Homo sapiens: one gene and its partners. The protein of the gene in region 3 purifies or fractionates together with the protein of the main gene of each other region. This does not show direct contact. Each region holds a gene or a part of one and is shown on either strand. Other genes may lie near its edges.

Region 1 (4,186 bases), on a different chromosome or scaffold from region 3:
CTACTGAGTGTCGGCTGTGTGCAAGACACCACGTACCCAGGGCTGACAATGGACTGGCCTGCTGGTGACTCTGAAGGGGCTGGCACTTACCTAGGCTGGCAAGGGAGGCTGGCATGCACACAAAACATACATCATTTTTTTCATCTCCTATGATGTTGAATCACCATTCTAAAACAGTTATTTTTAGAATATCAACATGAAATTACATGCATGCATTTATTTTTCATAGGATTTTATAAAGGCCCAAGACTTAAGTAACTTAGAAAACACTGTCGCTGCCTTAAAGAGTGAGTTTCAGAAGACACTTAATGACAAGACAGAAAACCAGAAGTCACTGGAGGAGAATCTGGCGACAGCCAAGCACGATCTACTCAGGGTTCAGGAGCAGCTGCACATGGCTGAAAAGGTCAGAAGACCATGTTTAAGGGATTTGTCTGTTAATGCATGATTAATGCACACAGTATAGAGGAATACATGTGGCTAAGATAAACGTTGGACAACTGCAAATTCAGATTATTTTTTCTCAAGGTATTAGCCAATATGTTCTAAAGATTAATCATTTCCGGGCACTGATATTCTTCCATCTTTGGTACTAAAATATCTGTGATAATAAGACATCTCCTCTCCCTCTATGGTGTAGTGAAATGCTCCTCTGTAGGTGGCTTGAATCCTGCCCTACATCCCACCATGTTGCTCTTCTGCTCCTTCTTCCCACAGCCTGCAGAGGGATGAGGGACTGTTTTTTTTAAGGACTTCTATACTTTTGTCATAATTTATATAAAATATGTAGAGAGCTAGATTCTTCACTTTGGGGATTAGACTCTTAAGAATATGGGAGTTGAGGCCGGGTGCAGTGGCTTGTGCCTGTAATCCCAGCACTTTGGGAGGCCAAGATGGCAGGATTGCTTGAGCCCAGGAGTTCAAGACCAGCCTGGCCAACATAGCAAGACCCCCATCTCTATAAAAAAATTAAAAATTTTTTCATATAAAAAATGGGAAAAAAGAATATGGGAGCTAAAATTTAACTAAATTAAAAATCATTTTGCTAAAATACACTACTATGGGACTTGGGAAAAAAGTGTGCTTATTTTACAGGAAAATTAGTTTAATATTTCAAATAGATTTATCATATCCAGGGCTTGAGTTATTTACCAACACTGTACTTGGGAAAATGTTACTATTTTATGGCTTCTCATTTGAAAGAATATATTTTTAAAGTTTGGATAGTCTTAGTTTTATATAAATGTGTCCTTTAAGGAAATTAGAAAATCATTAGCAAAATACTAGTAAAATTCAAGCAAAAAAAACTACATATTTTTATCGCATTTGTTATCTCTTTCCTTAACTATTTTTTTAGTAATGGGCTGACATTTTTTACTAAGCAGGAATTAGAAAAGAAATTTCAGCAAACAGCAGCTTATCGAAACATGAAAGAGATTCTTACCAAGAAGAATGACCAAATCAAAGATCTGAGGAAAAGACTGGCACAGTAAGCCACACTGATCCCGCCTTTGGATTTCTCTCTCTGGATTGATGTTTGTTCTCTGTTAAATCTAAGCTTGTTCCAGAGAGGTCAAGCCGGTGGTAGTTGCTGGATCATTTAGTCCAGAAGCCTTCATTTGAGGAAAGTGGAGGAGCTCTGGCCTGACCTTATCTATAATGCCCACCAGGGCTTCTTTTTAGGTTCATCTAGGCCTTTAGACTCACACAGGCCTACAGTAAGCTGCTCTTGGCAATGGATTCACTTAGCAGGATGTCAGACAGGAAACACAGCAAGCTCGCAGGGCAGCATTAGGTAGTTCTCTTCTCCTTGGTGGTATACTCTAAGCAGTCCAAGAACTGGTCTTACTGTTCCCCTAAATGACAGTTTAAGTTGGAGAGAATGAGATTCATGCAGATGGGTGTCATAGCCAGCTTGGCTTAGAAGTCCGTGTTCTACATAGGATTAGTATCTCTCTTAGCAGTCACATGATACCCAGTTAAGGGTATGTCCAGTTAAAAGAACTCATCGCACAGGGGGAAACCTAAAGTGGTGGCTCCCACCATGTATTTATAGTTCATTCATAGTCCTCCAGGTCCAGATGTGGTCATCAGATGTTTTGCCTGGAAACTGAGTTGACATTTTACCTTTATCAGAGTTCCAGGGGAGCAGAGCTAGAAAGGGAATTCAAGGTGAGATTTGTCCTTAGAGAAGTAGATTTGCTAGCCCTTTACTCATATAGTCGTATCAACTGTTCTTGTCAACATGATGATTGAGGTAATTATATGAAGTTATCACAGGTCTAAATGCCAAATATACAGACTTGGAGCCTTAGCAGTGATCTGGCCTATCCTCCTACCTGATGTAAAAATCCCCTCTGAGTCACCATCAAAACAAAGTTGAATGTGTCCAACTTCTACCGTAACAGTAATTTGAAGTGAGAAATATAGTGCCACTGCTTCAAGTAAACTTATTTGGTAATAACAACAACAAAAGGTATCCTGACATTGTGTTCTTAATTTATATCTCCAGATATGAACCTGAAGATTAAAACTGAAGATTTCCTCTGGAAGCTACCACATGCAAACATACAAGCAGTCTCACCTCAGGCATGTATTTTGAAAAGCATTTTGTCATATCCCCTCTCCTTATTTTTCTAATATTTAGACTTTGAATATTTAGAACTAGAGTTCCTATTTTCAGCTAGTTGAAAACAGAGAAAACCTAGTGATTCTGTCTGGTCATCCCACACACCTCTCTACTGAGTGCTCCAGAGTCTTAGCTCACATGCACTGAGAATTCTTTACAGCAAAGAAGAGATTTTTAGAGTGGGAAGAAGAGGCTTATCCTTCTGCATTAGTATAAAGAGTCTGTATTTTTAATAAATGTTAAATAAGCTAACAATGTTTGTACTTATGCATTCCCCATGGGTAAAAATAAATAATAGCATTGTTAAAGATAGTTATTACCAAAAAAAGAGAGTTATTACAAATAAATATGTCTCTTTATTTTTAAAAATGAAATCTTAATTCATTTACTCTATTTGATGATAAACTATAAATTCATTGAAAATGTGAATTCTATTATGGGTAGCCTTTTTACCAATTATAAGGAAAATTTACAGCAGTGAACATGAACATTCACTTAGCTTCCTCAGTCTCTCCATCTTAAAGATCATTTATCAGAGGAGGTTCAGCATTTTTTGCAGCATAACTTTTCATGAGTCTGTATTACTAATGGATAAGTCAAATCCATCCTGCACTTCTACAGTTTAGAAAGTATCTGGACTCAGAATAAATGTAATATTTATACTTGTTTCCAGAATGTTATTTTACATTTTATGTTCAATAAGAACACTTTTTAAAAGACGTATATTCAACATAAAATCAGCTATCAGACTTCAGATTAGACTTTATTTATGTGGGTCTATAATAATTGTATTTTCAAGAGGTTTTCACTATATTTGTATTGGCCTGGTTTTCTCAGACGATTTTGGACAAATCATTAGAAACTGGGCATCATATCCACAGTTATGTAAGGCAGTGATATACTATAAGGATAAACAAAGTCAAGTCCATAAAGCAATAATCCCTCAGAAGGAAAGTCCTTACTTTTCACATATTAATATTTAGTAATTTTTCCTGCTTCTAAAAGTGAGAGTATCACACCCTAAATGAACACTGTCTACTAAGAGACATCATTCCATTTCCACAAATGAAGATTTTATTCCAAGAAACGAGTTTACTGATTGGAGCATAGGGCTTGTTGTTATTTTTATTCAAGCTTTTAGTAATAGCCTTGAATTTATTATTTTTCTTATAGGCTTTTTGTTAAAATAGTGAAGGAACAAATGTTAAAGGGTAAGATAATTTCCCTGCAAAAGGACACAGAAGGCAGTCTTAAGAAGATGAATGGATGAGAGAAGGGAGAGAATAAAATGCAATAACGAGCCAGCATTTACTATGTATTTTCTCCTCACCTGTCTCTCCATATTTAGGTCACTTACCAGTTTCTGTGCCCTTTTGGAGCTTTTGTTGAGGGCTTCATTCTCACCCTGTATTTCTTTAGCCCTAAATTGACACTCTCTCCAAAAATCCATTCCATTGTCTGTGGACCAAGATGTTCTATGTAATTCAGAAGCAGAACTCTTGGCTAAAGGGCTAGTGTGGCCTTCAGAAACCATTCAATTATTTTCTCCCTACACCT
Region 2 (4,722 bases), on a different chromosome or scaffold from region 3:
AGCCGGCTTTTTTACTGCAGCGTGTTTTATCAGCAAGGTGTTTATGACTTGTATTTTGTGCCGACCTCCTGTCTCATCCTGTGACTTAGAATGCCTTCACTGTCTGGGAATGGAGCCTAGTAGATCTCAGCCTCATTTTACCCAGCCCCCACTCAAGATGGAGTTGCTCTGGTTCAAATGCCTCTGACATTAAGACCAGCTGGCTGTTAACCTTAACTTTAGCCAAGACAAACCCCAATTCAGTTACTTACCTAGGGATGGGTCTTAGGCTGTAGACTGCTCTCTACCATTCTAGAAGCAGGAAAAAAGACCTCATCTTCCCTGTTGGAAGCGAGCTCAAACTCCATAAAGGAGTTACCTGCCTTCCATTGTCATGGAAGCAGGAAACCTTGCCTTCCTTGTTGGAAGCAAGTAAAACTGCAAAGAAAAGAGTTGTACAGCAAAATAAACTTTAGATCTCCACCAAATTTTGGGAGATCAGGGAGGCTCTGGAGGGGGTGCTCTCAGACCTGGGCTCACTCTTGTAATCCCAGCACTTTGGGAGGCCGAGGCGGGTGGATCACCTGAGGTCAGGACTTCAAGACCAGCCTGGCCAACATGGTGAAATCCCGTCTCTACAAAAATGCAAAAATGAGCCGGGCTCGGTAGCTCACGCCTGTAATTCCAGCACTTTGGGAGGCTGAGGCGGGCGGATCACCTGAGGCCGGGAGTTGGAGACCAGCCTGACCAACATGGAAAAACCCTGTCTGTACTAAAAATACAAAATTAGCCAGGCGTGGTGGCACATGCCTGTAATCCCAGGTACTCGAGAGGCTGAGGCAGGAGAATTGCTTTAACCTGGGAGATGGAGGTTGCCGTGTGCCGAGATCTCGCAATTGCACTCCAGCCTGGGTAACAAGAGCGAAACTTCGTCTCAAAAAAACAAAACAAACAACAACAACAACAAAAAAAAAAACACGAAAAATTAGCTGGGCATGATGGCGTGTGCCTGTAATCCCAGCTACTCAGGAGGCTGAGGCAGGAGAATCGCTTGAACCTGGGAAGCAGAGGTTACAGTGAGCTGAGATTGGGACATTGCACTCCAGCCTGGGCGACTGAGTGAGACTCAAAAAAAAAAAAAAAGCTAAGGCGGGGAGGGGGCCTTCCAGGTCATAGGTAGATAAGGGACAAATGGCTGCATTCTTTTGAGTTTTCAATTAGCCTCTGCAAAGGAGGCAATCAGGTGTGCATTTAACTCAGCAGAGGGGTGACTTTGAATAGAATGGAGGCAGGTTAGCCCTAAGCAGTTCCCAGCTTTTCTTTTCCCTTTAGCTTAGTAGTGGGGCCCCAAGATTTATTTTCCTTTCACAAATGTGTATTTTGATACCCATTGGCATACTATGTATATTATTGTATTATACTATGACATTATCTTGTGTATGTACACGATGTACTTATTTGTTAATCGTCTCCCGTCTTCCTCACACCTGTACCCCTCCTCTCCTGTTGACAGAGAACAAGAATTTTGTTTTGTTCGCTGCTGTATCCGCAAAGCTCCCAAAGTCCTCCGAATGCCGCAGGCTCTCAGTAAAGACCTGCAGGAAGAAATAGCGAATGAATGATGTACACGTGTAGGAAACAGCGGGCTCGGACGCCTGGCTTCTCCGGCTGCCCTAACGCCCTCCAGCTCCAGGTGAGGTCGGGGAGCTGGGGCCAAGGCTCGTGAGCGCCCCTCACCCCCACGCCCCCCGGCCGCGGGCGCTGGAGCCGGCGGCTGCGAGCACTCCTTTGAGCGGCGCTGCACTCAGCGGAGGGTTACAGGCGGGAGGGCGGGGCCTGGAAGGGGGCGGGGATTCGAGGCGGGGCCTGCGGGGCGGGGCCTGGGCCAAGCGGCCCGCAGGAGGCGGCGGCGGCCGTTCAGTCCCTTGTTCCCCGCCGCCGCCGTCGCTGACCCAGCCCGCCAGGCGCTCCTGACCGTCGCTTCCTCCGGTCCCAGGTCCCCGGCCCTCGCCTCAGCCCCGGCCCCTGGTCCCCAGCCCTCGTCGCAGCCCCGGCCGCCCGCCGCCGCCATGTCCAAGGAGGAGCGCCCCGGTCGGGAGGAGATCCTGGAGTGCCAGGTGATGTGGGAGCCTGACAGTAAGAAGAACACGCAGATGGACCGCTTCCGGGCGGCTGTGGGCGCCGCCTGCGGCCTGGCGCTGGGTGAGAGTCGGGCGCGCGGCCGGGCCTGCGGGGGATGGGCGGGAGCCGTGCAGGGTGGTTGGGTGGTCTCCCCATGGCTAGTTTCACGCTTCTGGGGCTGGAGGAGCCACTTGATGGCGGGGAGGCCTTCTGACTGCGGGGTTCCCCCCAGTCTTGGGGAACATCACCCCTCCACAGCACCTCCTGGCACTTCCTGACTCTGCAGCGTCTCCTCTGCATGTGGGGGTCACCCTCTCCCCGGGAGTGTCACCCCTCGGGAGGGCCAGCTGCCTGTTGACCGTGTGACCCCTTGCTAGGCTTTCCTACCTGTGAGGTGCTCCCTGGAGTCTTGACCTCCGGCCTGTGGGGGCTTCCCCCGGACATAGGGCCTTTTTGACTTGCAGCTCTTCCTCTGTTTGTGGGGGTCCCTTGCCAGTCCCCAGTGCCGTGCACTCTGTCCCCCTGACCTCCCTCATCTCCAGCTGCCCCTGCTGGAGGCCAGCACCTAGCAGGATGGTCAGGCAGGAGGCCCTGTCCACGTGTCTACACTCCCAGCCCCCAAACAGAACCTAGTAAAAGACTCTCTTTCCACCCATCACCTTGAACCTCAGAAACTGCCTCTCTCGGTGCGGGTGGGGCAAAGGCTCCTTCTCCGTGGGGTAACCGCTCCGGGTGCTCTTCCTGAGCTCTAGCTGGCTTGCCCAACTACCAGCTCCACCCCTCCACCCTGCCTCCCCTAGGTATTCCTAGGGGATTTTTTTTTTTTTTTTTTGAGACAGTTTCTCTCTCGTTGCCCAGGCTGGAGTGCAATGGCGAGATCTCGGCACACTGCAACCTCCGCCTCCCGGGTTCAAGTGATTCTCCTGCCTCAGCCTCCCGAGTAGCTGGGATTACAGGCATACACCACCACGCCTGGCTAATTTTGTATTTTTAGTAGAGACGGAGTTTCTCCATGTTGGTCAGGCTGGTCTCGAACTCCTGACCTCAGGTGATCCGATCGCCTTGGCCTCCCAAAGTGCTGGGATTACAGGTGTGAGCCACGGCGCCTGGCCTCCTAGGGGATTTTTAACTCATGGTCTCCCCTCCTCACCCCCTCCGCTGGCGCAGGGACTCCCTTGTTTCTGTTGGTGGCGTCACTGTTCTTGCTCAGGCTCACAGGGATGGACACCCCAGTCACCTGTGGCACCAGAAGTCTTCTGCCACAGCCCCATGTCGCTCACATCTCCTCCTTTGCAGCCCCTTGTCAGGGGTTCTGGGGCCTCCTTTCCTCCTCACCAAACAGTGGTTGGTTTTCCTGCTTCCTGCTTTTCCATCCATTTGCATCCTGCTTGCTTTGCCAGAGTAATCTTGAAGCATACAGGTCTTACTTTGTCACTCCTTGGCTCAGAAGTTCTCAGTGGTTCCTTGTTGACCACAAAATTGCAGACGGCTGCCTGGCAGCTTCCAGGCCCTCCACAGCAGTGGGGAGCTTCCACAGAGTCATTTTCCTAGGCTAACCCAGAGCTGTTCCTCTCCTTCCCTTCCTCTCCCTTGGAGACAGGTGTAGTCTGTTGCCCCAGGGGCTTCTGGACAGCAGTTGGTAAATGAGTATGTGTTGGATTAGGGCAGCCTGGAGACTCCTGGAAGAAGCAGGAGGCTGCCATGTGGGATTATGTTCTTCCTCTGTGTCACCTTGCCTTGATTCCATCTGTTTCCTCTGCCAGCAATAACAGAATGCTGGTCTGGTGCCTGTCTAGCCCTGATGTTATGAAATAATTTCAGATCGGGCAGCCCTATTAGATGGGTGAAACCACCTTCCTCCGTGGGAAGTGTTGAAGAGAAGGGATTTGTAATCTGACTATCTGGATTTTTTTTTTTTTTAAGCCTCGCTTTTCTCCCCCAGGCTGGAGTGCGACGGCGCAATCTCGGCTCATTGCAACCTCTGCCTCCTGGGTTCACGCAGTTCTCCTGCCTCAGCCTCCCGAGTAGCTGGGATTACAGGTGCCTGCCACTATGCCCGGCTAATTTTTGTATTTTTAGTAGAGACGGGGTTTCACCATGTAGGCCAGGCTGGTCTAGAACTCCTGACCTCAGGTGATCCACCTGCCTCGGCCTCCCAAAGTGCTGGGATTACAGGTGTGAGCCACCGTGCTCGGCCGACTACCTGGGTTTTGAACTAGCTCTACCACTTACCAGCTGTGTGATCAGGAGGAAGTCATTGGATCTCTTCATGCCTTGTTTCCTCATCTGTAAAATGGGCATAACAGGACCTGAGTCATTGAGTGGGTGTGCAGGTGACAGGAGATGGTCAAGCCCAGTGCTCAGCTCTGCCCTGGGTCCCTGGGGTTGTGGAGTAAACATGAGCAAGTGCTGGGAGGGCCCGAGCATGGCTGCGGAGCTCCTTTCCCTCCTTCAGGGCTCTCAGACTGGTGGCCCATGGGCCAGGTCTCATCTCCAGACACACTGTTGAGTTGCCTGCATTTAAAAGTTAGGAGAGGGGGCTGGGCGTGGTGGCTCACACCTGTAATCCTAGCACTTGGAGAAGCTGAGATGGGTGGATCTTTTGAGCCTAGGAGTTTGAGA
Region 3 (4,703 bases):
TAAACAATCAAATAAAATTATTTACTGTTTTTCAGACAAGTTCTTGAGAGGGAAATTAGGTCCTAGAAAAGAACAAATAACCTAAAAAGATGTTAAAAAGGGAGATATATTGAATTGAATATTGAATATAAAATTTAAAATTTTAAATAGACAAGCAAGCAGTAAGATGAGTCAGTAAACTTATTTCATTGCAAAAAAATGGCCACCTACCAACCAAAAACAGTTCTGCCTTTGAAAGAGTCAACTTTTGATACTCTGGAAGTCAGAATAAAAGGTGTCTCACCTATTATGAAAGGGCAGGCTATAACTGGAAAAGCTACAAAAGAAGAGGCAGTCCCTACCAAGGCTGATATCAATACAAAAAGAATCTTGCCAGATCTGTCCCATACCTTGTCCCAAAAAAACAGGTAAGATTGGCTAAACTCAAATTCTTCAATATTTAACTTTTTCATGAATGGAAGCCTCATAACATTCAGACAAGAAAAGATCCAGCATCGCCCTGAAACAAGAAAGCACATCAAGAAATTATGAGGGTTCACATAGACTGCACTGCTCCAACTGTATTTCCCACCAATGAACTCATGACACGATCTGGACAATTCAGAAAGAGTAAATCAGAAAGAGCAGAAAGATTAAAAACAAAACAAGAAAGGTGGTAATTATTATTAGCAATATATATGCAAAGGTTTAATATCTTTAACACAAAAACACTCTTTACGTATCAAATAAAGAATCCATTTTTCAGAGTAATGCCTTCTCCAAATTGTACTCTACTTCAAAATAAATTAACTGAGAGCGCCATTAGAAAAGTCTTTTAAGGTCTTAAATACAGGGAAATTATCTCTTTTCTGAGGGAAAATTCTGAGGGAAAAACTTTGACTTGTATTGGGTATAACCTTTTTACTAATATGAAAATATGTTTATAATATATTGGTAAGTGAAAAAGATAGGTAGCTTACATAACAATGTATAAGGTATCAATGCATATTAAACACTATTAAACACACACACACACACAAAACTTGACAAATATACAAGAAAAATATTTACTTGGTATTTACAAATATTCTACATTAAACAAAAATAATTTTGTAACAAGAAGAAAACTCTAGTTAACTATAGTGTTTTATGAAAGTCACTAGTGCCTATTAGTTCGTCTTTACCTTACATTTACCTGTATGTCACCTCTCTTCTATATGCTATATATTTCTAGTAGAGGGGATCTGGATGCACTGGTGATGTGAAAACTGCATGAAAATAAACTACACAACTCACATGCTATTTGGATCTTTTGTATGTAAAAGTGACACTGCAAAATGTGTAAGACCTGACCTGTTCCCTAACGGGTCACTGCAATCTAAACTATGTAGGACCACTGTGACATTACTAACTGGATCATCTGTAGCCTGAGAGCCCACACCACTCCAAGCACTTTCTTCTAAAGCAAAACATTAATTATTGTAAGGTCTTGACTTTTTCCTTAACATTTAAAAAATCAACTTTATTCAGGTATAATGTACATACAATAAAATGTACTCACGTTAAATGTGTGCTTTGTGAGTTCTAACCGACTCTAAACAAGCACTGATGTGCTTCCTGTCCGTATAGATAGACTGGGGGGTCGTTTTTAAGTATAGAAAGACTTTAAAAAATCCGTTTAGTACAATTTTGTTGTGAGAATGTGCTCCTTATTTAGATTGCTGGATATCCAATCTTTCACTATACCTGTTTTTTCTGAGAGTGGTGCTAGAAAGCAGATAGCAAAACGAGACTTCTTGACCAGCAAGGCATGAGAACAGAACTTTTTTCTGTATTACAAACTGATCTACTGGTGGGAACTGAGCCCATCAGCACATTAGCTTCAGTTGTAACCAAGAAGCATATTTAAAAGTAACATCTGATGACATTTTAATGTAATTACATTGTATCTTTTCTATTTCATAGTATAGGGCCTTCAGGGCATTTCTGGGGAGTCCTCCAAAGATATGAACATTTTCACATGTTCTGTTTTGTGACCAAGACCATACATCTCCAAGACACGGGCTACAAACCACACAGCATTGGAACATAATATAGTCAATTACACTCAAACGTATACTCATGGACATGTCACTTTTGTACTCTAACCGCATGTACTAACAAGCCACAGAACAGCAAAACAAACCACATGGGTAATGTTCTTAGACCTGCCTGTACCTGTGCCTCATTCTTTACGAATTTACGACCAGTTCTTTCAGTACGAATTTAAGACCACTCTTAAATAAGACACCAAAATGGGACGCTGTCAGGAAGGTCAAGGAACGTATGGGAGAAGTGGAAGCCCACACCTGAGCTCTTCTGGTTGGTGATTGGCTTGCCCTCCTGGGGCACGGCGTGCTGGAACACATGCTGCGCGCGCTGCACCGTGGCCCGCTTCAGACAGATGTCCAGCAGGTCGTGGGTGGTCCCGACATTCTGGGCAAGTACGAACTGGGGGTCGGAATTCAGTTTCTGTATCAGAGCAGCTACCTTCTCCGAATTCAGTCCTGTTGGGAGACCAAACAGGATTTTAACGCAAAAAGAGGGGGAAAGGGCTGATCTGGGGCTCCCGCGTCCCGAATCTAACTTCGTAAGCGCATCCTGGGGTGCCCGCTGCAGCGGGGAAACCCATAAGCGGCATCCTCCTCCAAGGAGCTGTCTCCCTCCAGGCCGATCCAGCCTGCCCCGAAAGCTCCCTCCCCGCCATCGCCAAGGGTCCCAGCCCCCGGCCTTCCCCGCCGCCGGGCCTCACGGGGACCGCGGAGCTCCTCCAGAGGACCGCGGCGGGGGACGGCGGCACCTCACCCGAGCTGCTCATGGCGCCCACGCTGCCCGGCGGGGTAACGGTAGCTTCCAGGGTCCTTGGGCGAGCGCCGGGATTGCGCTGCGGCTCGCTGCCTAGGGGGCCCGACCTGTCTCTCGCACCCGGAGCGCCGGAAAAAGGAAACCGGCTCGGCGGCGGCGGCGGCGGCGGCGGCGGGGAGGCTGAGGCTGGGAGAAACGGGGTCCGCGGAGGGACAAAACTCCCCCCTCGCGTTGCTGAGTCAGCGCCGTCGGGGCTGGCCCCGCCCGGGGGAGGGCCGACGGGGGCGGCCTAGCTGACGCGCTGGGTCCGCCAGCGCCCGGGGGCTGAGGCCGCGCCTGCCCCCGCGCAGGACCGCACAGATGGTCTGCGCGCCAGGGCGGCGCCGGCGCCTTCTCCCCCTAGGTTCCCGCCTCCGGGCCGCGCGGGCGCCCTCCCGGGATCAGGCCCGCTCCAAGGAGGGAGGCTGACGGGTTCCCTGTGGGCCCAGACCCCCAGTACTCTAGCATCGGGGAATCGTCCCCAGGAAGCCTTGTGAGAAGCCAAAAGGGAGCTCGAGGCGGGAGGGAGGAGCTGAGAGGTCCCATAATTAAGCGTCGGGCTTAGGACGGGTCGATATGTCACAAGGAATGCACCCGAAGGCTCTTCCTATAGGCTTCGTTTGCTGACCAATCACTGCATTCTCAATGGCAACTTGTTGCTTGGATTCTCATCAGAAGCAAATAATTGTCTTTGAGGGGGAATGGGAACCAAGCTCTTCCCCACCCACTCCAAAGCTACTACCAGAGTTCTACAAATAGACATCTGCTCATTTCAAGAACACTACCCATCTGGTCTTCACGGAGTCCACGAGTGGCTCCTGTATAGTCCAGCATGTCCCGTTGGGTTTAACTCAGGAGGATGACAGAGGCTAGCCGTATGCATCAATATTGTTTCGCCGAGTTCTCTACAAAACTAACTGATGCTCCCCCTCTAGGCTTTCAAGATAACTCAACAGTTTCCCAAAGTTTTGAGATTGTAAAAACCTTGTTTTTGTTGATTCCGTGTTTCATGCCCTGAAATCTCAGCCCTTAGTAAGATGCTGGGATAGAACCCACAGAGAGTAAAACAAAAACACTGAAACCCTGTATCTGCTATTCAAAACGATGAGGTTGAGTGTGTGTGTGTGTAACCTAGAATCTAGGTCTTCTTAGATTGAAAATCATCGCAGTTCTAAGGAACTCTGATATCTGGAAAAATCCATACTCAGGCACCAATCAGTCATTTGAGAAAGCACGGTTTCTATGTCCCTAGAGAGACTCGGCTAAAAATTGGGGCTATAACATAGCAACTATCTTAAGTGGGCCCATCAACCATCCTATTCTGAGGTTCTTTCAATATCTGAAAAAGAAGAGGCTGAAAATTATACAGAAAGAAATCACTGGTCCTTTCACAAAATGATGTTCAAGCATCCTGCCCAATTCAAGTCATAAATTTTTATTCAGTATCTAACATGTACTAGGCACTGGACAAACTGCTGATGACATAGAGACGAACAAAGCTTAATCTTGCCGTTAAGAAACTCAATGTAGTAGGAAAGAGATGCAAAACAACTTTTAGACTATCTGTAGTAGCATACCAATAGTGCTGTAGACTGTAGAAGCAATGAGGAGAGCACTGTCAATTAGGGCCAAAGGGTGCCTGAAAATAGAAGTGACAAGAGAGCATGATCTTGAAGAGTGGATGAGATTTTTACAAGTCAAAGAACAGGAGAAGGGCATTCAAGGCACCAGCGAAGGCGCAGTGAATAAAATCATGTTCAAGAAAGGGTGCATCATAATCGGATGTGGCTAAGAGCAAGGCATGTTTTGGGAGCAGAGGCAAGGTGTAGGACTGGAAAAGT
Region 4 (3,373 bases), on a different chromosome or scaffold from region 3:
TTAACACATTTCTTACTGATAAATCAAAATATTCCTGGGGGAGCAGGAATTAAAAATGAGGGCAAAAATCTGCCTCTAAGATTTTTTTAATCCCTAGATTTGAATTAATATGCTTGCCTTTTCTCATCCATTTTTCCAGTTTAAATGTCAAATGTGTTGGACCATTTGTGTTCATGTGTGGGACATTTAGTTGTTAGCAAGTTTTTTTTGAGACAGAGTCTCGCTCTTTCGCCCAGGCTGGAGTGCAGTGGTGCTATCTCGGCTCACTGCAAGCTCGGCCTCCCGGGTTCACGCCATTCTCCTGCCTCAGCCTCCCGAGTAGCTGGGACTACAGGCGCCCGCCACCACGCCCGGCTAATTTTTTGTATTTTTAGTAGAGACGAGGTTTCACCGTGTTAGCCAGGATGGTCTCGATCTCCTGACCTCGTGATCTGCCTGCCTCGGCCTCCCAAAGTGCTGGGATTACAGGCGTGAGCCACCGCGCCCGGCCATTTGTTAGCAAGTTTTTACAAATACCACTGCCTGACATTATTATGCTTATTTATACTTTTACCTGAACAAACTTGTTTCATCCCCTGCCCCACCTAATTGAGCTCTAGGAGAGCAGGAGCCTTGTCTGTTTTGTTCTACAGTACCTTGTTTCAGAGTAAACATTTTTAAACAGTTATTGACTCAAAGAGTCTGCTTCTCCTTGGGGACTTGAGTGGTTTTCCTTCTTACAGTATTCTCATCTCTTTTTTTCCCCCCCAAGCACTGGAGAGGGGTCTCCTGAAAACCCTGCAGAAACTGGATGAATATCTGAATTCTCCTCTCCCTGATGAAATTGATGAAAATAGTATGGAGGACATAAAGTTTTCTACACGTAAATTTCTGGATGGCAATGAAATGACATTAGCTGATTGCAACCTGCTGCCCAAACTGCATATTGTCAAGGTAGGTCTGTAGGGGTTGATGTCGCATTGCCATTACCTTGTATTGTATTTACTAAAGTGGCATTTCCTTTGTGCTCAAAACATTTCTGATTTTATATGACTAGTTGTTTAACTCAATGCTGTTTAGGCAATAGTTGAAGCACCCTAGAGTTAGTTAAATGGAAAATTATGTCTTAAAATTGAGGAATATAAGAAAGATGAATATTTTTTTTTCTGTGACTGCATACAAATTCAAAGATATAATGCGTGACTTTGAATTGGAGTTTGCCACACTGACTTATGTTATCAAATTCTGTTCTGTGATCACACCTTGCTTTCTCTATTGAAGGCAAAAAGTATTGAGCATTTATTATATGAGACACTGGGCTGGGCACATTGTTAAATAGAATAATAATAAGCGCTAGTTGTAAATAAAGACCTAAGATAACAAAAACAGATCTAAAATAGCATATGTGTGTTGTGAAGTATTTTCCAGTGATTATACTTGGCTGTCTTTCTGGATGTCCAAGGCAGTTATTTGCAGTCACTGTCACACTTCTAAATCCCTGGTGTAGCTTGCAGTCTTGGTCATTATTTAAAACTCTGGTTAGAATGATGGTGATGGACTTTTTTTCATATAGAAGCAGTTCTCAAAGATTTAGAGCATTAATTATTTGCTCCAAAATCAGAGATATGTCTAGTTTACAAGACGTGGAAATAAGTCTGTTAACTTTTGATCTCTTTGTATTTCAGGTGGTGGCCAAAAAATATCGCAACTTTGATATTCCAAAAGAAATGACTGGCATCTGGAGATACCTAACTAATGCATACAGTAGGGACGAGTTCACCAATACCTGTCCCAGTGATAAGGAGGTTGAAATAGCATATAGTGATGTAGCCAAAAGACTCACCAAGTAAAATCGCGTTTGTAAAAGAGATGTCTTCATGTCTTCCCCTAAGAATACGCTTTTCCTAACAGGCTACTCCTTCCTGTAGAGCAGAAATTGTATTTTGCACGAACATGCAGTTATTGAAGATTAGGATCAAGGATAGACAAGGTATAGTAGTTATCTTAAAATATACACTCCTAAGCAGTATTATTTTAAAATCCTTTACCCTGGCTACCTCCCCTACCCGGGTTCCCCTCTCTTTAATTTGGAGACACTCCACCACAAACTTTTCACTTTAGAGGTAGCTTGCCATCTCTCAGGAGCCCTCACCATTGTGTCCATTCACTGTGTATAGATGGCAGAACTTTTGAGGTGCAATGTTTAATTGTTAAAAATAGTAGCCACGACTTTATCAGGCAGCCCCAAACTGGTGCATAATGCATGGTACAAGAAATATTTATGTATTTTTTGGAATTTTGTAATATTTAGTAAGAGTATATGAAAGGATTGCTACTGTATCAGAAATATTGTTTCAATTTAGTCTATCCTGGATATGTACTAACGAATATTACCACCAGAGAAGAGAGCTTTCTACAAAAGTCACTACAGATTTTGCTATATTGCTTTGTAGATAGATTTTTACTTTTGCCTAAAAGCATTTATCCTTCATACCAATTGTAACATCTGACACCATGTAGAAGCTAAAAGTTTAGAGGGAGTGAGGGTTTTCTCAAGACCTTCCTCAAGCATTTTATCTTTAGAAGAGAAACTGATGGGCACCTGATACTCTGTCTAAATACGTTTGTTATATGTGTTTTGCCCTGTGCCATTCATTTGGAACTTTATTGCATTCTTTATTTTAAAAAGCTTGTTTTTACGTAATCATAGAGCTTGCTATTTGTACATCTGTTGAGCAACACTACATAACTGATTTTTAGTTGACTTAGCTATAGCAGTACAATGATTAGTAATGTAAAAATTAACACAGAAATTAACCTAAGGAATGAAGGGTGGGTTTGTCAAAATATCAAGTAAATTTTTGTTTCTAAAGTACATTTAATGTAGATGACCTAAAGAATGCGTTATCCATCCTATATAAAAGAAAGATAAAACACAGGTCACCAATTTTCTCATTTCACCCCATTTACCTTGTATAGAGGATTGTTCATTCCTTTGGGACTAAGTTATAGTTATGGTGAGTGTGTATTTACTGTAGTTTTGCCTGATCTCACTCATTGCACTTCCTGGAGTTAAATTTTCCAACAGCCATGTTGAGGAATAGCACTCTGCATGTTTTTGTTTTGTTTTTCGGGGTTTTTTTTAATTGAAGCCCTAAACCAGGAATTATTTGTGTTCTAACAGGAGGATGAACTTGCTGAAAATAAAACTTTGCTATGTATTTACTCTTTTTTAAAAGACAAAAGCAAAACCAGACTTTCTACGTACTACTCCAAAGACTGTGATTGTGACTATAATACATTTTTGGTAATTTTTTTATACCTAATTTGTATAGGAAGTGCTATTTCTCATAGGCTGTTTCTTGAAATTTTAAGTTTATTGCTTTAAAATGGC
Region 5 (4,186 bases), on a different chromosome or scaffold from region 3:
CCACGCCCGGCTAATTTTTGTATTTTTACTAGAGATGGGGTTTCGCCATGTTGGCCAGGCTGGCCTCAAACTCCTGACCTTGTGATCCACCTGCCGTGGCCTCCCAAAGTGCTGGCATTACAGGCGTGAGCCACCGTGGCCGGCCCATGACATATATTTCAATAAAACATGGTAAAAACTAATAGTCTGGGCGTGGTGGCTCATGCCTGTAACCCCAGCACTTTGGGAGGCTGAGGAGGGTGGATCACCTGAGGTCAGGAGTTCGAGACCAGCCTGGCAAACATGGTGAAACCCCGTCTCTACTAAAAATACAGGCCAGGCGCGGTGGCTCATGCCTGTAATCCTAGCACTTTGGGAGGTTGAGGTGGGTGGATCACGAGGTCAGGAGATTGAGACCATCCTGGCCAACATGGTGAGACCCCGTTTCTACTAAAATACAAAAAATTAGCTGGATGTGGTGGTGCGCGCCTGTAGTCCCAGCTACTCGGGAGGCTGAGGCAGGGGAATTGCTTGAACCTCGCAGGTGGAGATTGCAGTGAGCCAAGATTGCGCCACTGTACTCCAGCCTGGTGAAAGAGCAAGACTCCATCTCAAAAAAAAGAAAAAACAAAAATTAGCTGGATGTGGTGGCAGGCACCTGGAATCCCAGCTACTCAGGAGGCTAAGGCAGGAGAATCACTTGAATCCAGGAGACGGAGGTTGCAGTGAGCCAAGATTGCGCCACCAAACTCCAGCCTGGGTGACAGCAAGACTCCATGTCACGAAAAAAAAAAAAAAAAAACACATGCTCTTCGAAGCAATCAGGCACTGCAACCATGGATGGGTCCATTTCTACAAACCATTACAGAATGGGGGCCATGCCACCAGGTCAAACGCCCTCACCCAGAGCCAGGCAGTTAGGAAGCCACCACAGGGCTTCCAGGAGGGCAACTGCTATGGTGTGGGTGCCTTGTGTGCTTGCGCTCTTCAGGGGCCCTGCTCCACTTCTGATGCTCCTCAGGTGAGCTCGGTGCCAGGACTACAGCGACACGGACCTCTCACTGCTGCACCCTTCAAAGTCCAGCAGACAACCCCTCGCCCTGGGGTAGGAGCTCCTCTACTCAGCTCCTCACAGCACCTGCCATCAGTGGGGCTGGGGAGGGGAACGTTGCCCATGTCACATCAACTCACGGCTGGCCCCACACAGAAAGGGTCAGCTTACTGGGAACTAACTGGACCCTGAAATAAACGGAAAGAACCACAGCCTGCAAATACCTCTAAGCCTCACTCAAAGCAGGTCATGTTTGCTCATGACCAAATTCCGGAAGACTGGGAGGCATCGGGACAGACTCCAGAAAGGTACTGGTGGCAGGGGACTGGTCTGCTGAGTCACAGCAACCCCACGCTCCAGGCCGTTTGTTCCTGCTGCTCCCTTTGGGATTAACTAGAGATTGAACCGGCTCACCTTGTTTCAGCTCAGGCCCTGCAACCGACCGACCGTCTGCTGGGCTCCAAGTCACCTGAGAGGCGAGGTGAGGTAAGACGGACAGTAGGGGTGGGGTAAGGCAGGCCGCTCTCTCCCATGGTGACAGGGAGCTAAGCTGAGCTGAGCCGGACTGAGCTGCTCTCCTCAGGACTCAGGGGTAGCCCTGCCCTCCCAGCTGGCTGCGATGCTCTAGTGGGACTTTCTGGAGGAACAAACATGGGAAGACATCGGGAAACCTGACAGCTTGGTCAAGAGTCTACTCGTGCCATGTGGGTGGGGGCAATTCAAGGGGTCCTTAGTGAAAAGCAGTTGGGAGCTTCTCATCTTCCCCACGCCCTCCTCTTTCCTGAGGACCACAGCAGGGGAGGGATCTGCCCAAGGACACAAGGTGACTTAGTAGAAGCAGGGCATGATGAAGATCTCTAGCCACCAACATCTGGCTAGGCCAGGGCAAAGGGACCTGGGCCATGACCTGTCTGTTTTATAAACCGAAATCGCTGCAGCCCTTGTCTTGGCATGAGGGTTTCATGGTAGAGCACGATGCCTGCTGGAGGGCCAGCGGGGGTGGGCCATCCCATCCCCAAGGGTCACTGGGGTTAAGGACCTGCCCAGACTCCCTGGGTGGAGCCCTGGGCCTTGGCAGGGGCCCAGCTGGTTCCTGGCCACTGGGGCCAGAGAACCTGGGGGCTGCTGAGTTAGTTCAGCTGAAAAACCAACAAAAGGGCCTCCCTGCTATACCCGGGGGCTCATGAGTCACCGGGGCTTTGGGGGAGTGCCAACATCATCATGACACAGCAAGAATCTTATCAGACCAATGGGGAAGTCAGCCCAGAAATGTTCTGAGGAAAGGGGAGGCGGGGGCCGCTGGGTCATCCCTCCCACAGGCCCATCATTGGGATGCGTCCTGAACGCCCATCAAGCCCATGGCCCTTGTGATCCAGGTGGGGAAACTAAGGCCCAGAGAAGTGAGGACCCCGCAGACTATCAATCCCAGTCTCTTCCCCTCACTCCCTGTGAAGCTCTCCAGCATCATCGAGGTCCCATCAGGTGGGGAAAGATGCTGTTCCAGGCGCACACTAGTCTACAAGGCCAGAGCTTTCTGGAAGGGGGCAGTAAGTACCTCGGCTCCCTTTCTGGTAGGGGTGGGAGTCCTGAGAAGGCAGGAAGTGGCCCACTTGGTAACTCTGAGGTGCCATCAGGGCCCCCAGGAAGGAAGCTGGGTGTGTGGGCAAGTGTGAGGTAAGCTGGCCAGGGAGGAGGAAGGGACAGAGGAAGGCCACGTGGGTCCAGCCTGCCCCAGGGTGTCCTGCTTGCCCAGGCTGTGGGTCTGCCAGCCACTTGCCTGCTTTCAGTTTCTAGGTCATGCTGAGCTTGTTCCCAACTCGGGGCTCCGGGCATTTGCTCTTCCTTCTGTGTTTGTGCTCTCCCGGCCCTCTTTGTGGGATCTATGCGCTTTGGGGGACTGGGGACACAGGGCCCATGTGTATCTTCTGAAACACACGTCAGCCTGAACTCTTGCTGGTCTGCTTACTTGCCGTGGTTCCCTGGCCGCAATAGCACATAGGTCCCATGAGGAGGGCAGGGACTGGCTGCTGTGGCCCAGAAGTACCCAATCGCTGTCTGCTCAATGAACGGAGAATGGGCTGCTTTCCTGGAACAGCAGATTCTAGGATCACGTGCCCTCAAGTGCCACCCTGCCTACCTCCCGCACCGAGTGAGGCATCAGGCGTGGAAGAAGCCTGGGAGCCGGAGCTGTTCCAGGTGCTGCCTGAGCACGCCACCTCCCATCTCCCCCACAGCAGGAAGAGGAAAAAACAAACCACGAGGCTCTTCAGAGAGAGGACCCCTTGTCCCCTACCCACAGTGCTGGAGCTGGCACTTCCTATTTCTGCTTTGAAAGCCTCAGGTTGTCACTCTCAGAACAGAGGAGAGCAAAGGGGAACCCTACTGATTTCAACAAAACAAAGTTGCCCAACCCGAAGCTGGCCACAGGCGGAGGCAGTGAAATGACAAAATCAGCTTGGAAAAGCCTAAGGACCCTGGGCCCTCGTTTCAAAAGCTGTCATTTGCTACACGAAATGCTGAGGTTCAGGAAAAGGAAGACACTTGCTCCAACTCACACAGCAAGCTTGGATGCTCTCAATGAGGTGTCTAATAAGAGCTGAAGGCCAGGAGTCATAAGCTATCATTGTGGCCTGGGTTGCTCTGTTGCAGTGCCTTGTGACAGCATGGGGTGGGGATGGAGAAAGCAACCTCAGTTACCTTCTCCTCCAGTCTGCTTCTTGGACTAAGGGTTTAACGGTCAGAGTCCTGGCTGTTAAGGTTTGTGGCTGATGCAGGTATGGCTCTTTTTATTTTTATTTTTTTGAGATGGAGTCTCACTCACTCCGTCACCCAGGATGGAGTGCAATGGTGCCATCTCAGCTCACTGCAACCTCCACCTCCTGGGTTCAAGCGATTTTCCTGCCTCAGCCTCCCAAGTAGCTGGGATTACAGATGGGTGCCACTACACCTAACTAATTTTTGTTATTTTTTTTTTTTTTTTGAGATGGAGTCTCACTCTGTCACCCAGGCTGGAATGCAGTGTTGCGATTTCTGCTCACTGCAAGCTCCGCCTCCCGAGTTCACGCCTTTCTCCTGCCTCAGCCTCCTGAGTAGCTGGACTACAGGTGCCCACACCAGGCCTGGCTAATTTTTTATTTAGTAGAGACGGGATTTCAC
Region 6 (4,273 bases), on a different chromosome or scaffold from region 3:
ATCCACGTGGATGTTTAAGTTACTATGAACACTCTCAGAAGTTAAGAAAGTCACAAAAGACTTTAGGCCAGGATATTGGAGCCTTCATTAAAAGTAGAGACATTATGAAGAAGAGAAGAGAGGGAAAGGATCATACAAGTCTGAAAGAGGTAAGATTTTGTGCAAGATGAAGTTGATAATAGTCTGGAAGTGGCATTGGAGAACAAAAGGAGATGCATCCCAGTAAAGATGAAAGGGTATGATTTAAAGGGCAAAAAAGAAGAAAAGTCATTTTAAAAGAAATAAAATGCTGGTGTAGGCAAAAATAAAAATGCAGAGTATGAAAGAAAGAAAGGTAAAAGTATAAAGATGCTACAAGTATTAAATAAGAACTAAAAATGCAGCTTTTTATCATCTGTTCATTTGTGGGGCTAACCACCTGGTCAAGGCTGGGCTCTAGCATCTATAATTAGTGGTCCAGAGAGTAGGTTCCTCAGTACACATTAAAAAAAGATAGCTAGGAAATGGAGAATGAAAACATATTTTAACATTGTGAAAATAAAAGAATTGTATCTCCTCCAATACAGGATGATAATAACTAGATTTGATAACTTTGGTTTTACAGTCTAAAACCTCCCCCTTGCTTACAATTCAGAAAAGATAAGGGAGGCATATTAATAATTTTATTGCTGTATGCATAACTCTTTGGAAATTACAAATCAACTTAAAAAAACGAACAGATAACCAAGCAAGAAACTAGCACCCAAATAATCCAAAAACTTTTATATTGAAACTTGAATAAGAGAACCTTGTGTTAAACACCACCAGAGATGAATATTAGAATTTTAAAATGCTTGTAAAACGACAGCAAAAGAAAAATAAGTTAGACTAGGTACAGTTTGACGATAAAGCATTTAGTAATTCAAATACAGCTAAACTGGGGAGAGAATGTAGACAAACAAGATTACACATTGTTTTAAAATTATCTGATGGAAAACAGGTTGATCTAGTCAAGATTTGTCCTAACATAAATTGAATAATCCGGAAGTGGAAGACAGATTTGATTTCAAGGAGAGTAGCACTCTACTGTGGACTGCTGTATCCTAGTGCAATGTGAAATGGGTCTTAAAAATCCAGAAATTGTAAAAAAAAAAGTTGGAATTTATGAAATAGGCATGGGAAAATGTGGCAAATACTTTTAAAAGTTTGCTTTGGGTCTTAAATGTCTTTCCAAAATAGTCATGGCCATTTATGCTAAAGATTATAATGCCTTTCAACTCCAGCAAAAGTTAAAGGGTGTCATATATTTTGTACCATGACAATCAAACATTGGTATAAATTCAGAAATAAATTGCCAGATAACTAAAAACATCTACTTACTAGAGTAAAAAATGTAATTTTTGAAGACATATAATTAAAATTTTGTCAGAACATTTTCTTGAATAAAAATTATGATGCTAAAAACTTTATACACAAATGTAGAACAGATGTCTAGATGAAGATATATAAATAACCCTAAATATGTACTTTTTCTTTTAATTTTTCAGTGCAAATGCAATTACATCAGACAACATGCTTAGAAGTAAATAATATGTAGCAGATATATCTGTAATTCAGTGTCAAAATTAGCTTGAGATGGTATTTTGGTTGATATTAAATGGTAAAGTATTTATAATACACTGATTTTTGCTCCTAAAGATTACCTCTTTAGACAGTCAGATAGATATTTTATAAACATTGTGGTTTGTTTTCAAACCATACATACATAGTATTAAATTACTATTTCTTTTTCCTTTTGTTAAGAGCAAGTTGATCTGAAACTCAGCTTGAATCCTAATTATAGTATTCACTTATAAAATAATTTCCATATCTCTTCTTGGTCTATGACATGATGTATATGATCTAGAGTAAACATCTAAGAAGAAGAATGAAGTTCTGCCCAAAACTTCTTCATTGAAAAATGACATGCCTTTAAATAACTACTAAAATCGTTGATGTCTTGAAAAGGGAATTTTAAAATTTAGGACTAAATGGAAAATCAGTGTGCAATCCTGGAAGAAAAAATTAGTTGGAAAGTATCTTCCCAGAAAGATAGGTGACTAATACTTCAGTTTTTCTTGTTTTTCCCATCAATTTGCAATCCTGGAAGAAAAGTTTGGTTAGAAAGTATCTTCCTAGAAAGATAGATGACTCAATGACTCAAATGGCCATGTTTTTTCTTGTTTTTCCCATCGTTTAACAGTGTTTAGGAGTTCAGATGTAACTAAATTGGGGGGATCTTAACAACCAATGGATTTTGACAGCAACAGTTATTAAAGACAGTGATTTTGTTGTTTGCAAGACAACCTAAAAAATATCTCTGGAAGATATCAGATGTCTTAAGAAAAGCTTGTGATGATATTTCATATCAAAACAGTAAGCAAGTTTCCTGTGGTCAGCTACCATTCCCTTTAATAAATTACTTAATTAATTCATTAATACTTATTTCTATTCCTTAAAACTCCTGGACCCAGGCATACTCAAGTATGTCTTAATAAATACCTTTTGACTTTATTCCTGGAAAGATTACCCATCCTTAATGTGGCCCCCTAAGTGTCAGAAAAAGAAAAGACTCCCTTTGAATGACTTTATTTATACTTCTGCATTTAGCATACTACAGACTATCAAAATTTTACATATTCTACAGAGTTAAAAGAAGATGTATACTGTGGCTTTTAAAATATTAGCCTTATCTGTTGTTACAGAGCAAAATAGCTCTAGGTTCAGTAATTCACTCCTATCCTCTTTTGACCAGTGGAGGAAGTTGAATATTCTTTGGCTTTGTAATTTCCTGGGAAATTTGAGTAATTGGGGTAAATTCTTTAAAAGTTGTATATAATTCACAACTCCAGGGCAAATTTTTTTCTAATTTTATTTTGTCATATAGAGTTTCATTTTAGTGAGCTTATAGTAACATTGTATTTAAGAAAGAAAAAATTTCTGTACCATGCAATAGTAAATTTACCTTTTTCTTAGAATGCTTTAATTCTTTTTAGAGATTTTTAATTGGGTAATACTACATAGCAAACACACAGAAATGATATATCATAAATAGGACATTACTAAATTTTGAAACTAGAAAAATATGTTATACTATATAATTTGGACACTACCTATAAATCAGCATATATAAGCCAAGATCTTATTGACAAATCAAATCAGGAATTTAAAATTTATGCTAGTGAGAAAAATTAGAGGGTGAGATAAACTAGCAGAATAGGTTTCTATTATTATTTCATGCTTATCAACACCATATTGTCAATTCTGCTAAAGGTTCCTGGTTGATTCCTGCAAAATGGCAGCAGAGGTTTGCTAAAGCAACCACTACTTTACTTACTAAAAGCGAATAATTAGCATGGTATTACTTTACAGAAGAATTCTTTTCCAACTTTCACCATTAAACATTTTACATGTTCTAAAAACATTTTTTTAGATCCCCTTAAAAAAAAATTCCCCAAAGCTTAAGCATACTACAAGCTGCTGCTTCTTTTTTTTTTGTCCACAGCTCGGCCTATGTAAATCATTTTAACTTCAGAGCTATGTAATAAAGAGCTGGATACGAATGAATATCACCTACTAAAAACAAAACCTGAAAACACAATTCAGTTCCCATCTGCTTACTTGGAAGGTCATTTGCCACTAGTGATGACAACCATGTCAGGCCTCACTTGCTTCAATTCGAGAAGTAAACTTAGTGAGTTTTGCTTTCTTAAGTCAAAACCACAGTGGTAAAGGGAAAGACGAGTGTGATATTCCTCAACCTCACCAGTAAGCAATATTCGTCAAGACTACATCTATCACTAAACACACACTAGAATCAGAAGAATCCTTGACTCCACAGGAGATTTAACTGAGGCCCCACATTAAGGTTCAGGCTCAGGCATTGCTAGTTTACCCTGAAGAAACCTCATCCTATTGCCACTCTCTAATGGAATTTTCCTCCTAGGAAACACTTCCTAATTTGGAATTTATTTTCTCTAGTGCAATAATTAAGGTAGGAGTGCTTGATGGCTTGTGGACTTGACTATGTAGTCAAACTTAAAAAAAATGGTTAACCCTTGTATAAATCTGTGGTTGAATTTTTATTTATGTTATCTGTGAAACCAACAGGGCATCTGGCACACATTTTAGATTTTTCCCATAGATATGAACATATATTGCATATTTAGTTCTTTTTGAATTTTGCTCGAGCTATATGGAAAAGCAAAACAGAGCAAGGAGAATGATGCCAATTGCCATCGTAAGGCCAGTTACA
Region 7 (3,843 bases), on a different chromosome or scaffold from region 3:
TAAGAGTCCCTGCATTTGGGAAAGTTGTTGGAAAGTGGGCTTCTTAGTTTCTGTATTGAGATCTGGCTTGGATTTGGAGCTGAGGGAAATGGAGAGGGGTTAGGAGGAGGCTCAGCCCCCTCCGCCTGCACCCTTCTTGGCCTGGGCGGTGGTCCCAGCTACCTTTTGTCAACTCACCTCTGTCAGAAGTTCCAAGATATGTCCTTTCCTCTTCGTGAACACATCCACCAGGGTCTGGATAAAGCATGAGCCTTTCTGATCATGTCGGTAGGCGATGTATCCTGGGAATTCCAGAGAGGTGGGTTCGGGGGAGCTTCAGAGGGTAGGTAGAGGGGATCCTGGAAGGGCGTGGGTCCTGGAGGAGAGGTTCAGGAGTTGGGAGTGGCAGGAGAGGGGGAAGAGCAGAGGGATCCCTGGGCCAGCTGGGAGCTCATACCCTCTACCGTGGAATAAACGTGCAAGGCATCTGTGTATGTTGGGATGGTTTGTGGGCTGTCTTTGATGACCATCACAATCTCATCTCCACCTACTGTTTCACCGGGGTCCCTTTGTTCTGAAACAACAAGAAGAGGAGGAGGCAAAGTCAGAGAGAAAGGTAAGGAAAGGGGCTGGGCAGGGTGGCTCACACCTGTATTCCCAGTGTTTTGGGGGGCTGAAGCAGGAGGATCACTTGAACCTGGGAGCTTGAGGCTGCAGTGAGCCATGATTGCACCACTACACTCTAGCCTGGGAGACAGAGCGAGATGTCGCCTCTTAAAAAGAAAGGTAAGGGCTGGGCACGGTGGCTCACACCTGTAATCCCAGCACTTTGGGAGGCTGAGGAAGGCAGATCACCTGAGGTCAGGAGTTTGAGACCAGCCTGACCAACATGGTCAAATCCCATCTCTACTAAAAATACAAAAATTAGCCAGGCATGGTGGCTTGCACCTGTAATCCCAGCTACTTGGGAGGCTGAGGCAGAAGAATTGCTTGAACCTGGGAGGTGGGGGTTGCAGTGAGCCAAGATTGTGCCATCGCACTCCAGCCTGGGTGACAGAGCAAGACTCCGTCTAAAAAAAAAAAAAAAAAAAGGATGCTTTTGTGGTATGCCATGTGCAGTGGGGCTTTTTAATTTAATTTAACTTTTTAGAGACAGGGGCTTGCTTTGTTGCCCAGGCTGGAGTGCAATGGTGTAATCATAGCTCACTGCAGCCTCTTAACTCCTGGGCTCAAGTGATCCTCCTACTTCAGCCTCCTGAGTAGCTAGGACCACAGGCCCATGCCACCATGCCCTTGGCTAATCTTTAATATTTTTCATAGAGCTGGGTTCTTGTTACATTGCTCGACGCTAGTCTTGAACTCCTGGCCTCAAAAAATCTTCCCGCCTGGGCCTCCCAAAGTACTGGAATTACAGGCATGAGCCATGGTGCCTGGCTTCAGCTGGGGCTTTGGATCTGGGACTGGCTTGGATAAAAACACAGACTTGGTTGGGCATGGTGGGAGGCTGAGGCAGGAGGATTGCTTGAGCTCAGGAGTTTGAGACCAGCCTGGGCAACATAATCAGACCCTGTCTACAAAAATTAGCCTGACATAGTGGCGGGAGCCTGTAGTCTCAGCTACTCAGGAGGCTGAGGCAGGAGGACGGCTGGAGCCTGGGAGATGGAGATTGCAGTGAGTTGAGATTCCGCCACTGCATTCCAGCCTGGGTGCTGTCTCAAAAAACAAAACAGAAACAACAAACCACAGACTCTGTGCTCTTGGATCTGTCCCCACCTCCTCGACAGGCCTGTATGATGTACACCTTGGGCTTAGCTCGCAGGGCCTGGCAGTTCTTGTTGTTCAGGGCCTCGAAGAGATTCTCCAGCTTGACCATCTCCCCATCTTCTCCCTTGAGGAAGCCTTCCCTCCCGTGAGCCATGAGTACCACGAAGGCACAACTGACGGGATCTTCCCGGGAATCGATGGCCTGCTGGAATTTTTCCAGCTCTTCCTGGAATTGCTGGAGTGAGAGGAAGAACCAGACTCAGCTGGGTCCCCATAGCCTACACTTCCAACCTAGTACCTTTCCCCCAAACAGGCCTGGAGTAGGCACCCCAATACCTCGGCAGTGGGGTCTCTTTTCATGGTGCTTTCGAATCTCAGCTGCCGAAACATGTGTTCCAGAGCATCCAGGTCTTCTTCGGAACCTTCCCGGGCTTTGGTGACACACAGTATTAGGGCCAGGCGGGCACCTGACATATCATATTTCTCCTGGGGCCAAGAGAAGACAGAAATCAGCATGGAGAGGTTCAAGGAGAAGCAGATGTAGTCAAAAGAGGCATGCAGGCTGGGTGTGGTGGCTCATGCCTGTGATCCCAGCACTTTGGGAGGCCGAGGTGGGAGGATTGCTTGAGCCCAAGAGTTCGAGACCAGCCTGGGCAACATAGTGAGACTCTGTCTCTACAAAAAATGAAAAATATAGCTGGGTGTGCTGCTGTGCATCTGTGGTCCCAGCTACTTTGGAGGCTGAAGTGGGAGGATAGCTTGAGCCTGGGAAGTTGAGGCTGCAGTGAACTATGATCTTGTCACTGCACTCCAGCCTGGGCAATAAGTGAGACCCTGTCTCAAAAATGAACAAACAAAACAAGAGAGGCTTGGGCTTAGGGTTGCCAGGTATAATAGAAGATGCTCAGGTACACTTAAATTTCAAATAAAAACCAAATACCTTTTTAGTATAAGTATATCCCAAATATTGCATGGGATATACTTATACTACATAATTATTTGTTGTTGATGTGAAATTCAAATTGAATTGGGTGTCCTTTATTTTTAGTTCCCAAATACAGCAACCCAACCTGGGGTCCAGCTCTTTTCTAGCTTGGTATGAACTTGGGGGAAGTCACTGCTCCCATCTGAGCCTCAGTTTCCAAATATAGACAATGAGTGTGTGTGTGATTTTGAAGATCCCTTCCAGTTGTCGTATTTTGTGGATTTGCAGGTCTCCTCATCCTCCCCAAGAGTGTTCTGAGCATTCCTCTATTACCTCCTCACTTGCAGAGGTCTCAGAGTTTCTGAAGCTAATACTGAGATCCCGTCTGAGGAAGAAGAATATTGGGGGTCAACAGTTCTTTCCAGAACAGAAGCAGCGTACTGAGCACCCCAGTGGTAAGAACTTCATCTTTTAAAAAATCAACATGAAATTGTTTATTGCAGGACTTCTCAGAACCTTTAATGTGTTGAGAAGAACTTGATCTTTGGAGACAGAGGTAGCTGTGTTTGACTGCCCCCACCACCCAACCCAACTTCGGTTCCATCTCTGAGTCTTTTTTTGCTGTTTGATTGACTACAAAGTACCTCCTAGCTCTGAGTTCAGATCATGATTTTTTCAGTCCCTCCACTCTTTCCAAAACATTAAAATCCTCACCTTCCTTCTCCCCAGATGATCACCCTCCCCTCAACCTGCACCCAGCCTACCTCTTCCAAAGACCGCGGATTGCTCATTTCTCCTTTGGTTGTGAGTCCCGGCTCTCAGCACCCTTGTCTGATCCTTGGAGTCAAGAGAAGATAGGTTAAAGTTCTCTAAAGGGAGGCCGAGGGGCTCAGGGGACAAACTGGCTTATGTATCTGGATTTTTGAGACCAAATAGCACTCAAGTGGTGGGGATTTGGTCTGTGGACAGATCTGGGCAATAGATGATAATCCATGAAGTAGTAATATATCACCCCTAGAATGACAATTTCACGATGTCTTCCATTTCTGGATGTCTTCTTCAGAACTGCTGAGCCTACCCCACAATGTCCCCCACTCCGCCCCCAAAAACTTCCTGTGTCTCCCGTGGGTCATTCACCAGCTTCTGGTGGACTGAACTTCCCCTGAAAGCCCTGG

Evidence for each region.
Region 1: the proteins of BLMH (region 3) and LZTFL1 fractionate together in Homo sapiens (co-fractionation; one large-scale study listed by BioGRID). This does not show direct contact.
Region 2: the proteins of BLMH (region 3) and AACS fractionate together in Homo sapiens (co-fractionation; one large-scale study listed by BioGRID). This does not show direct contact.
Region 4: the proteins of BLMH (region 3) and CLIC4 fractionate together in Homo sapiens (co-fractionation; one large-scale study listed by BioGRID). This does not show direct contact.
Region 5: the proteins of BLMH (region 3) and G6PD fractionate together in Homo sapiens (co-fractionation; one large-scale study listed by BioGRID). This does not show direct contact.
Region 6: the proteins of BLMH (region 3) and DSG1 purify together in Homo sapiens (affinity purification with mass spectrometry, with the first as the bait; one large-scale study listed by BioGRID). This does not show direct contact.
Region 7: the proteins of BLMH (region 3) and CASP14 purify together in Homo sapiens (affinity purification with mass spectrometry, with the first as the bait; one large-scale study listed by BioGRID). This does not show direct contact.

The regions. Positions count from the first base shown.
Region 1 is NC_000003.12:45,824,659-45,828,844, reverse strand, and holds part of LZTFL1 (leucine zipper transcription factor-like protein 1), read left to right. Parts: intron 1-229; coding exon 230-406; intron 407-1,385; coding exon 1,386-1,489; intron 1,490-2,512; coding exon 2,513-2,531; 3' UTR 2,532-4,186. UniProt on the Homo sapiens protein: Regulates ciliary localization of the BBSome complex. Together with the BBSome complex, controls SMO ciliary trafficking and contributes to the sonic hedgehog (SHH) pathway regulation. May play a role in neurite outgrowth. May have tumor suppressor function.
Region 2 is NC_000012.12:125,063,537-125,068,258, forward strand, and holds the start of AACS (acetoacetyl-CoA synthetase), read left to right. Parts: upstream 1-1,898; 5' UTR 1,899-2,048; coding exon 2,049-2,181; intron 2,182-4,722.
Region 3 is NC_000017.11:30,288,984-30,293,686, forward strand, and holds the start of BLMH (bleomycin hydrolase), read right to left. Parts: upstream 2,962-4,703; 5' UTR 2,837-2,961; coding exon 2,824-2,836; intron 2,526-2,823; coding exon 2,328-2,525; intron 500-2,327; coding exon 390-499; intron 1-389. UniProt on the Homo sapiens protein: The normal physiological role of BLM hydrolase is unknown, but it catalyzes the inactivation of the antitumor drug BLM (a glycopeptide) by hydrolyzing the carboxamide bond of its B-aminoalaninamide moiety thus protecting normal and malignant cells from BLM toxicity.
Region 4 is NC_000001.11:24,839,109-24,842,481, forward strand, and holds part of CLIC4 (chloride intracellular channel protein 4), read left to right. Parts: intron 1-751; coding exon 752-933; intron 934-1,664; coding exon 1,665-1,829; 3' UTR 1,830-3,373. UniProt on the Homo sapiens protein: In the soluble state, catalyzes glutaredoxin-like thiol disulfide exchange reactions with reduced glutathione as electron donor. Can insert into membranes and form voltage-dependent multi-ion conductive channels.
Region 5 is NC_000023.11:154,539,876-154,544,061, forward strand, and holds part of G6PD (glucose-6-phosphate 1-dehydrogenase), read right to left. Parts: intron 2,578-4,186; coding exon of another isoform or gene 2,389-2,577; exon of another isoform or gene 2,337-2,388; intron 1,517-2,336; exon of another isoform or gene 1,363-1,516; intron 1-1,362. Other genes in the region: IKBKG (NF-kappa-B essential modulator), read left to right, coding at 2,389-2,577. UniProt on the Homo sapiens protein: Catalyzes the rate-limiting step of the oxidative pentose-phosphate pathway, which represents a route for the dissimilation of carbohydrates besides glycolysis.
Region 6 is NC_000018.10:31,355,622-31,359,894, reverse strand, and holds the end of DSG1 (desmoglein-1 preproprotein), read right to left. Parts: 3' UTR 649-4,273; downstream 1-648. UniProt on the Homo sapiens protein: Component of intercellular desmosome junctions. Involved in the interaction of plaque proteins and intermediate filaments mediating cell-cell adhesion.
Region 7 is NC_000019.10:15,051,868-15,055,710, reverse strand, and holds part of CASP14 (caspase-14 precursor), read right to left. Parts: intron 3,506-3,843; 5' UTR 3,460-3,505; coding exon 3,433-3,459; intron 2,230-3,432; coding exon 2,080-2,229; intron 1,979-2,079; coding exon 1,753-1,978; intron 554-1,752; coding exon 437-553; intron 356-436; coding exon of another isoform or gene 282-355; coding exon 178-281; intron 1-177. UniProt on the Homo sapiens protein: Non-apoptotic caspase involved in epidermal differentiation. Is the predominant caspase in epidermal stratum corneum. Seems to play a role in keratinocyte differentiation and is required for cornification.